Linked DNA regions of Homo sapiens: region 1 is linked to region 2. The links come from fine-mapping of genetic effects on gene expression. A gene starts in region 2. The other region holds a variant in brackets. All regions are shown on one strand. Distances are from middle to middle.

Evidence for each region. PIP is the estimated chance that this variant, and not a neighbour inherited with it, causes the effect.
Region 1: its variant is the best candidate, but not a certain one, in a credible set for the expression of ANO4 in subcutaneous fat (GTEx, PIP 0.64).

What each region holds. Positions count from the first base shown.
Region 1 is chr12:100,714,422-100,718,808 of GRCh38, forward strand. It overlaps a transcript of ANO4 not described here. Among named protein-coding and RNA genes, the nearest start is that of ANO4, 78 kb to the right of the region's middle. The variant T/C (reference allele first, on the strand shown) is at 2,486.
Region 2 is chr12:100,792,764-100,797,150 of GRCh38, forward strand. ANO4 (anoctamin 4) reads left to right here and starts at 2,013. Exons shown (of 28, transcript NM_001286615.2): 1 at 2,013-2,264.

The sequences.
Region 1 (4,387 bases), 78 kb before region 2:
TGCAGAGAGTCAGCCTCTTCTACCATCAATACAATGCAATGTTTAAGGCAGTTAATAAAAGTCAGTTTAAGTTCAGAACATGCTGAAAAGGGAAGAAGAACTAGTTTCTCTCAATCTATCATCTGAAAAAAAGTGTTTTCTTGGGAAGATTTAGAACACAGCTTTCATCAAAGTTGTGGCAGTTCATATTTTACTCCTGAAAACATGGAGAATGAATAAAACATAAGGAAATTTGAATGACAAGCTTGTCTTTATGAAATTTTATTGGCAAAATCACAAATCCTGGACCTCATCTTTCAAATGTCACTGCCTTAGTTAAGTCGTGTGTGAATCCTGCTAAGACAGAACCACTTGTTCCTCCTGGAGTTTCTGTAACACCCTGTATTTCATCACTGGTGTCATAATTCTTCCTTAACCTTTGTCCCCCTCAAGAATGTGAGGTAGGTGGAGACCACCCCTTCCCACTGCAGACCAGGACACAGGTAGCGGCTTAAAGATCTCATTACCACCTGACAACACAGATGCTGAGAACAACTGGAAGGCTCTTAAACCCATGAAGGCAGGAGGTTTATTTGTCTGTCAATTCCTCCCAAAGAGGCCAGGTCCCCTCGGTCTTTTATTTATTTATTTTTTTTGAGACGGAGTCTCGCTCTGTTGCCCAGGCTGGAGTGCAGTGGGGCGATCTTGGCTCACTGCAAGCTCCGCCTCCCGGGTTGATGCCATTCTCCTGCCTCAGCCTCCCGAGTAGCTGGGACTACAGGCAGGTCCCCTCAGTCTTAATTCTACTGTGGCACTGAATATCTCAAGGACTTGTAATGGTGTTATGTGGGGACAAGTTCAGGTAGCCTTAAGAGAGGTTAATTAATTAAATGCTACTTTTTGGTTCCTGCTAATTAGAAAGAACTGCCAAGAAGAATTAAAGTGCAATTCGTAACTCATTGTGATGGCCTTTCCTCATGACTCCATCTGAGCGGCAGCGATGGTAAATGGAGGAGAAAGCGCTGGATGTCAGAAGATAAGTTACAAACGGCCTTGGGGCCCAGCGCGGGCATAGAGGAGACTGGGGAAGCATCTCCAGGCTTAGGAAGGGGCACAAGAGGTGGAACAGACTTTAAGACGAGTGCCCAGACAGGGCTGCTGAGGTGTGGGGATGGTGAAGGGAGAACAAAGGCGCTGCCCAGGTCTGGGGGAGGCTTGGAGCGCTTGGGGAAGGCAAGCCTGGCCTGCATCGGCCCCCAGGCTAGGTGAGAGCAGGAGCTGAGAGCAGGAGCTGAGAGCAGGTTTCCCAGTCACTTTAGGCTCAAGGGTGGGCGGTTGCAATTTCAGCCTGGGGTTGGGTAGAGTGTGAGGCTGAAAAAAACCTGCGGGAGAGGCCAGTGGGGCCCTCAAGGGGCAAGGTCAAGGCAGGGAGCAGCCACCAAGACAGAGCCTCAGTTCTGATAGTGTCCCTGTCCCACCAGATCCCTGCAACCGCCCTGCGAGGTGAGCACAGCTGCAATGCTTAGCTCCATTTTACAGATGGGGAAATGGAACCTTAGAGACGGTGTCTTAACCAAGGGTCACCCGGCTGCTGGCTGGCTGACCGAGGGCCAATAAAGGACCAGATCCCACGCTCCCACTATCCTGGGCAGACCTGGCCCTCCTTAGGGGCTGGCTCCTCCTGTCGGCCGCAGTCTCAGCCTTGCGCTCACATGGGTAAGTGTGGGCCCCGACACTACATCCTAGAGCCTCGTCCACCGGTCACCCGCCGCCGCCTGGCTGCCCTCACCGAAGAGTGGGGAGGCAGGCGGAAGCGGAGGTTGGAAGCGCCCAACTCTGACGGCTGGAGAGCTGGAGAGCGCGGGAAGCTTCCCAGACAAACGCCGAGTTTTGTCTCCGCCAGATTTATTTGCCCTCGGTGCCTCCACCCGAGTAGGCGCAACCCCAAATGCAGCTAATGCCTTGACACCATCGCCCCCCAATTCCTCCCGCGCGGGCGTTTTACAAGGCCTGGTGATCACGACCTTCGACCCCGAGCCAGGAGGCCTCTGGGCCTTCCTTTTGGTGTGGTCTCAACTTTACACTTGGGAATGGCAAAGCCTCGCGGCAAGGGACGGGGTCGGGGTTGCACCTGACCCGAGGAGGCGTTGGGCGGCCTTCCTCTTTCCCCTGCTTCATCCCGCAATGGGTGCCACCGACTTATTGGGTCTCGTTCTCGCTCTCCCACTCCTTTCCCTCTCCTCAGCCAGCTGATTCTAGACGGAGACCCAGCACAATAGGGAAGGCGGGCTGAGACCAGCTCGGACATTCCATCACTCAACCTTGTGTGAGCTCGCGCCCTCATCAGATGCTGGGCAGGAATAGGACACCGGTGAGCGCCTCGTGGTAAGACAGAAACACAAACAGAGATGATAAGATGATGTACTGGGACAGGTCTGAACTGTTGGGGTCAGAGTTCGGTACTTAGTAGTCACCGACTTCACTAATAGAAGTGCGCAGGAGAAGG[T/C]TGCTACTCTCCCCTGTGCTTTGGTCTCACAGGCAAAGCCTTCTCCAGACTGTCCCCTGGGCTGGGAATCGCGCCCAGAGTCACGGGCGGCCAGACCCACCCCATGTGTTCCCCGGCGCGCTCTCCAGTGGAGCTTCCCTAGGAAAGGAGACCGTCCCGAGAGGCTGTGGCGCGCCTGGGACTCCCCGACCCTTGCCACGACATCCCTGCCACCCCTTTTGGCGTGAACCCACCGGGGATCCCGCCCGACGCCGGCTGCGCTGGGCCAAATCCGCGGCGCGCCTCTGCCGGGCACCTCCCACCTCCAGCTTCGCCCCTCCCCTCTCCCGGCCGCGCGTCCTCCGCGGCTGGTTCAATCCCCGCGGGGACCCGGAGCGCGGCTGCCGGTCTACGCCCTCTCTCCTGCCGCTCTCGCGGCGCAGCCCGGCCGGGGGCCCCCGCGCGCCGGCAGCTCTAGGGGCGAGCGCGGCGCGCTGACTGGGCGTGCTCAGCCGCGGAGCGCCCGGGCGCCGCTAGAGCCAAGCGCATGCACTCGCCGGGCCGGGCCGTCCAGGGGCGCAGCGCGCAGGGGGCCGCTCTAGCCGACGCCCTGGCCAGTCTGGGCAGGACGCGGGCCAGGATGGCCTCCCTCACCGCATACGGTAACTGGGGCCGTCGCGGGTTCCTGGGGCGGCGGGGCGGAAGGGAGGGGCCCAGGGAGCCGTCGAAACACCCGGGGAAACTTCGGGGTTCGCCTCTGCGGAGGGGTCTGGAAGGGAGGGAGACGGCGGCCGTGCGCGCCGCTCCTGAGGGGCCGATGTTCCGCGGGGTTTCGGGCCGCGGGTAACCCGGGAACCGGGTGTCTGCGGGAAAAACGCTTCAAAATTTGGGAGGATCTGGGAGCTTCGGGACTCTAGAAACATTCCCCTCGCTTCCGACCACTCAGGGGAAGGGACGCGGGTGTTAAGTCCTCCTCTAGCGGGGTGAGGCTTGGAGTTGGGAGATGTGCGTTCAGCCAGCGCTTATCTTGTCCCTGACTGACCTTGGGCAAGTTATTTAAACTTTTCAGCCTCTGCATTTCTCCGTCTGTAAATCAGAGAGATGAGAACATCTCTCTGACAGATGCTGTGGAGTTAAAATAATATGCACTGTAACATGTTTTTAATGCAAAAAAAGAAATCAGTTTGGAAATAAAAGTTTATGAAAAAGGAAGGCATTCATCGTTCCCCTGCCCATTGTTTTGTTAAATAAATATATATGAATAGACATATACATATATACATGTGTGGTATTGCATGGTTCTGAAGGAAAACAAAATCACTGTGTGAAGGTTTCAGGCTCAGCTAGAAATCCTAGCGCGCTGGGGAAGCCAGCAAGGCTTCTTATCAACGTTCTTGCTTGTGTGGATAAAGCAATTCTCTTTAGCCCTTTATCAGAAATACTGCTGAGACTTGGTTATAGGAAGCAGAAACTCAAGTAGACCTCCCTCCCTTCCTCTTGCTTGCAGTCAGTTGTTGCGATAAGATCTAGATTTGGCATTTTAAAGGGGAAAGCTGTGAGCAATTGATGGGGAATGTTCTGCAGGGACATCTCAAAGCCTGGGATGGGTGGGACGGAAATTACTATTCTTTGGTGTGGAATCTTCATTCTCTAGGCCAGTGATGTCCCCTGCTCATTTTACCAAGGTTAACAGGGTCAGTCTCTTTCTCTGGATTTAAATTGTTTAAAATGATCATTTAGGTGGCTCAGAGGGTTTGCAATTGATGCCTGGGAACCAGTAACAAATTGTGAGCAGATTACAAATTTCAGTCTGGTGGCCTGTTTTTTCTTTCCTCCAACCCCCTTCCCCCGTGCTCAGAACATTTTTGCTGGGATTTAAGTTGTTCTTACCTGCACGCACATTTAACACTCAACATTGTGGTT
Region 2 (4,387 bases):
TCATCAACAGTATTAATCTCAATTCATTTAGGAGCTTTAAATAATATTCCCTTATTAAGTATATTCTTGATATGCTGCCCATGCTTTTACAGTGTCAGAAGCCGTTAATGCAGATAAAAACAAACATTCAGTTAAAGAACCTTCTCATATATTAATTCGATTTCAGAAATTATTTGTGCATTTATATTTCCTGAATGGCTTCGGTTATGACAAACATCTAACTAGGCTAATTCAGAGCTTTGAGGCTAAAGTCCAGCCTCATGGATTGGTTTAATCTGAAGAACATTAAAATAGTAGAACATTTTCTGTCTTGGCAAGAATCATAGTGTTGAAATTTCAAGAAGAAGATTTAAATTTGTCCATGAGACTGTAAACTTCTTGAAGGCAAGGACTCATCTCTGTAGCCCTGATGCATAATTGATGTTCTTCAAATGTTTGCTGATTTGAGTTGAACTGAGGAGAATAACAAAACAGCATTTGAGAATCAAAGTCTCCCAGGTTTTCCTTATATAATTTACAAGGACTTCCCTGGCAAACTATCCTTTCTTCTTCGTTTAAAAAATTTCACTTTATTATGTTCATCTTTGATGTGGAACATTTTTTATGGCCTTCTGCTGTGACTCATTTTGGTGCTGAGTTATCTGCTTCCTTGGAGCTCAGCCCTTCCTTTTAAGCTGTGGTATTCAGGCTCCCCAAAGTCAGCTTGCCTACGGGTAGAGATCACAGCAAAATGTGCAAATGGTATTCCAACTTCTAGGTAAAAACAGACAACTAAAATTAAAAACTCTACATCATGTAAGTCACCTGGAAAAAAAAAACAGAAAACAAAACCCGAGGGCATTTGTATATTCCTGTTAACTCTTGACTGACTAAAGGGAGTTATCTTTTCTGCAGTGATAAAAAGGTGGCCCAAGACAATCTCCCCATCTTACAAAAAGTTCTGAAGTTTTACTGTGGAGTCCAATTAAACTGGCATTTAACTTCAGAAACTACATCCCTATATAATGTAATCATCACAACCAAATACAAATTAATTAATATATATGGACAAAGTTTATAAGTTCAATATTAGAATAGGGGAAAAGGGAAGTAGGAAAAGTTTAGAGTCCTCCACGCATCCTTCATTTATCACCAAGAGATTTGCTCCTTTGCTCCTTCTGTTAGTGTAAGTCAGAATTTCTCAATTTTCAGTGTGTTTATGAATTGTTATTATTGTTTATCCCAAACACATATTTTGTCTTATAGGTGATTTAAGAGCTCTAAAAGGGACATGTTAACTATCTTCAGAAGCTCACCTCTAACAATATTTCTATACCTATATTATACAAGAAAACTAATGAAGATTGACAGTCAAATTCCTGGAGAGACCTTTGACCCTTCTCTGTCTTAAATTTTTCACTTCTGAAATAGAAAGCCGGGTCACTGGTCATCTTATCCTGCACTTTGGGCATAAAGAAGCTTAGGTCCAAAGCGCCATTACTGTACTCATGATGACCCCTTGAAGGCACATCAGTAGGGCTGTCTGGACTGTGACATGCCATCAGACATCATTTAGGGGACTTCAAGTCTGGCTTCTTGCAGAGATGCTGTGGGATGCCTCAAAAACTTCCTGCATGGCTAGTGTAACTATGGGGCTTTAGATCTTTGTTAAATACAAGCAAACATTAACAGCAGCAGTGGAGAGGATAAGTTGCCAATCCTCCCAAATTTCTTTTCCAGGCAGGGGGTTGTCCTGCCGCTCTCAGAACTGGCTGTCATCTGCTGCTCTCTTGTCACACTGACACGGCCCCCTGGCTGGGCTGATTGGTCGCTGGCAATAACTGATATGGAATACTGATGTTCTCTCCGGCAGTTCCTTCCACTCTAAAGAGACTCCTTTTCATCCCTCTTCTCGCCTTTCCTAGCCCAGCCTAGTGCCCACCCTCCCCCGACCATGCCTCCCCTGCACCTGGGGAGGGGGAGGACCAGTCCTGGGCGTGATGCTCTGAGACGGTGGTGAAATCCACCAGGCTGCTTTCACTCCGGCTCGCTCTCCGGAGAGTCCTGTTCCAGACTTCTCAGGGTTTTTACAGCACAAACAACTGCATACGGCCCGAGGGGAGGCTGAAAAGGACTTGTGTGTGGTGGTTTTATTGCCTGTCATCACTTTGCTGGCCTCCTCCCGACTGGAGCCTGGAGGTTCACAGTGGATTTCTTTCTGCCGAAGACACCAAGGCACTGAGGAAGGATCCCTTCTCCTTCTGTTGACTCTTTCTATTTTTATGGTAAGTGCTTACGTTGAATGAGCTGCTCTGTTGCTGCAGTGAACTGAACCGTTCGTTCCCCCTCTTCCCAGCTAAGCTTAGTGACCTTCCTTCTGCATTTCCTCTGTTTTCATGGATCTTGTCTGGGATGATCCAGCTTCAAAAATGCCAGGGGTCATTTGCCTGGAGTGTTTGTCTTTTTATCTTTTTTCCATAAACGTGAGCTCTTCTGCTGTGATACGAATATAAGTGCTCTGTCTTTGTCCTTGAAGCAGCAGCCGGGGAAATGTGTTCACGATGGTAAACTGCAGCAGCGTGCAGGGAATCTGTGGAGGATGACTGACAAATTTGGGCAGGATGAATCCTCAGTGTGCCAGGGGCACTCACTCAGGATCAGAAGGGCCGGGGGTGACCTGCCCACATAGCAAACTCTTCCATCTTTGTGGATAAAGATGAGCACACACGTGTGAGTTATGTTGAGTCTGCTGTGGGCAGCTGTGTTTTCTGCACCTGCCCGTGTGGGTCTGGGATGACCCTATATCTTGTGGGGTTTACAACTTGGGCAGGAACATTCTCAGCAGGAGGAATCCTGAGCTGGCAGACGGAGTAGACTGCATGACCTCATTGCTTCTTTCCCTTCTGAGTCTCAGGGTACCCAGTTCTGCAAACCATATTTTACAGGCTCTTCAGAGAGTGGTAGGGCAGTGATGACAGGAACATTTTTGAGTTGACAACATAGTTTTGTCCTCCTGCTAGGAGATAAAATACTTTGAGGTTATTAGAATGGTTAGACTTTTCTAGGAGAACATAAGCAGGTTTCTGACGAAGACTATGGATGTGGCAGATTGTTTATTCCAGGGACATTACTCTTACAATAGTGCTCTAATTTTTCACCTGGTCTCCTGAGGTTTGCTGCAAAGAGCATCACAACTTCAAGTCTATTACTGGCAGCTTCTTGACGCCCAAAGGAAACCAAGAACATTTTATTAGTTTCACTCCTGTGCGTTGCAGGAGTCTCTCTTAACAGGGATTTTTTTTTTTTTTTTTTGGTAGCAGGTGTGTCGAACTATTTTGGTCAAAGCATCATTCCAAAGAATAGCTTCGCAGTTGTAATTCTATTTAGTTATTTTCAAGTCTTGGACCGGAGGTGGGTTATCTTATTTGTGTAGGTTTTTCCATTCTGGTCCATTTCACTCTAGAGAGGGTTCTTGCCAAATGTAATTCAGTCTCTGATTCATAAGGTACTGAACTAATACAATGTGATTTTTTGTGATAAGTGAGGGGAGAGAATGTGGGGTGAAATTTCCAGTCTCTCCTCCTGCTCTTTGGGAGTTTGGAATGTAAAGTTCCCTAACTGCTTGCTCATTTTCACTACTTTTATGTCCCCTGTTCATGTGGATTTTTCTTGAAATAGTGGTGATGACATCAGACATATGCCTTTACCTTCTTCTCTGGGTCCAAAGTAGATGCGTTTGTTGTTGTTCTGTTTTTGTTTGTTTTTTATTTCAGTGAAGGGTTCCTTGCATTTGTAAAAGCATACGTTTAAATAAAAAACAAGAATTTGTAGATGTTTACATGTTAGCCCTGTTCAAGAGTAAAACCAGCACAGAGGTTAACAGCAAAAAAAAAAAAAATTCAAAACAATTTTTAAAATATTATCAGCATTGCTTGGCTTAGCTGTTCTAATATCCACTCTTCCCTACACTCGATTGTGGTTCGCGGCAATACTGTATTGTAATTTGACTGTCAGACTGCTCTGCTTCCTCTTTAATTCTTTAATGTTTAGCTGTTTACTTTCATCCTTAATGGTGTGTTCTTACTTTGCTTAATCTTTTTTTCTCTTTTTCTAATTGAAAGGATGTTATATAGTGCCTGGTAACTCAACTGAGGATACTCATTAAGATGGAAAGTGTTAGAATCAGCTTGGGTGTCATGGAAATAGACTCAGTATTTCTCACTGCAGGCAATTTCAGAATCATTTAGAACATATTTCATTTTAATTAGTAGCAACTTTAGCCTTGAGAAAAAACATTATTTAGGTTTCCTTTATTTTGCTAAACAGATTGTGTACCTATGCAATCAGAATTGTATATATATGTGCAATTGTTTATATATATGTGTGTGTATATATATATATATACACA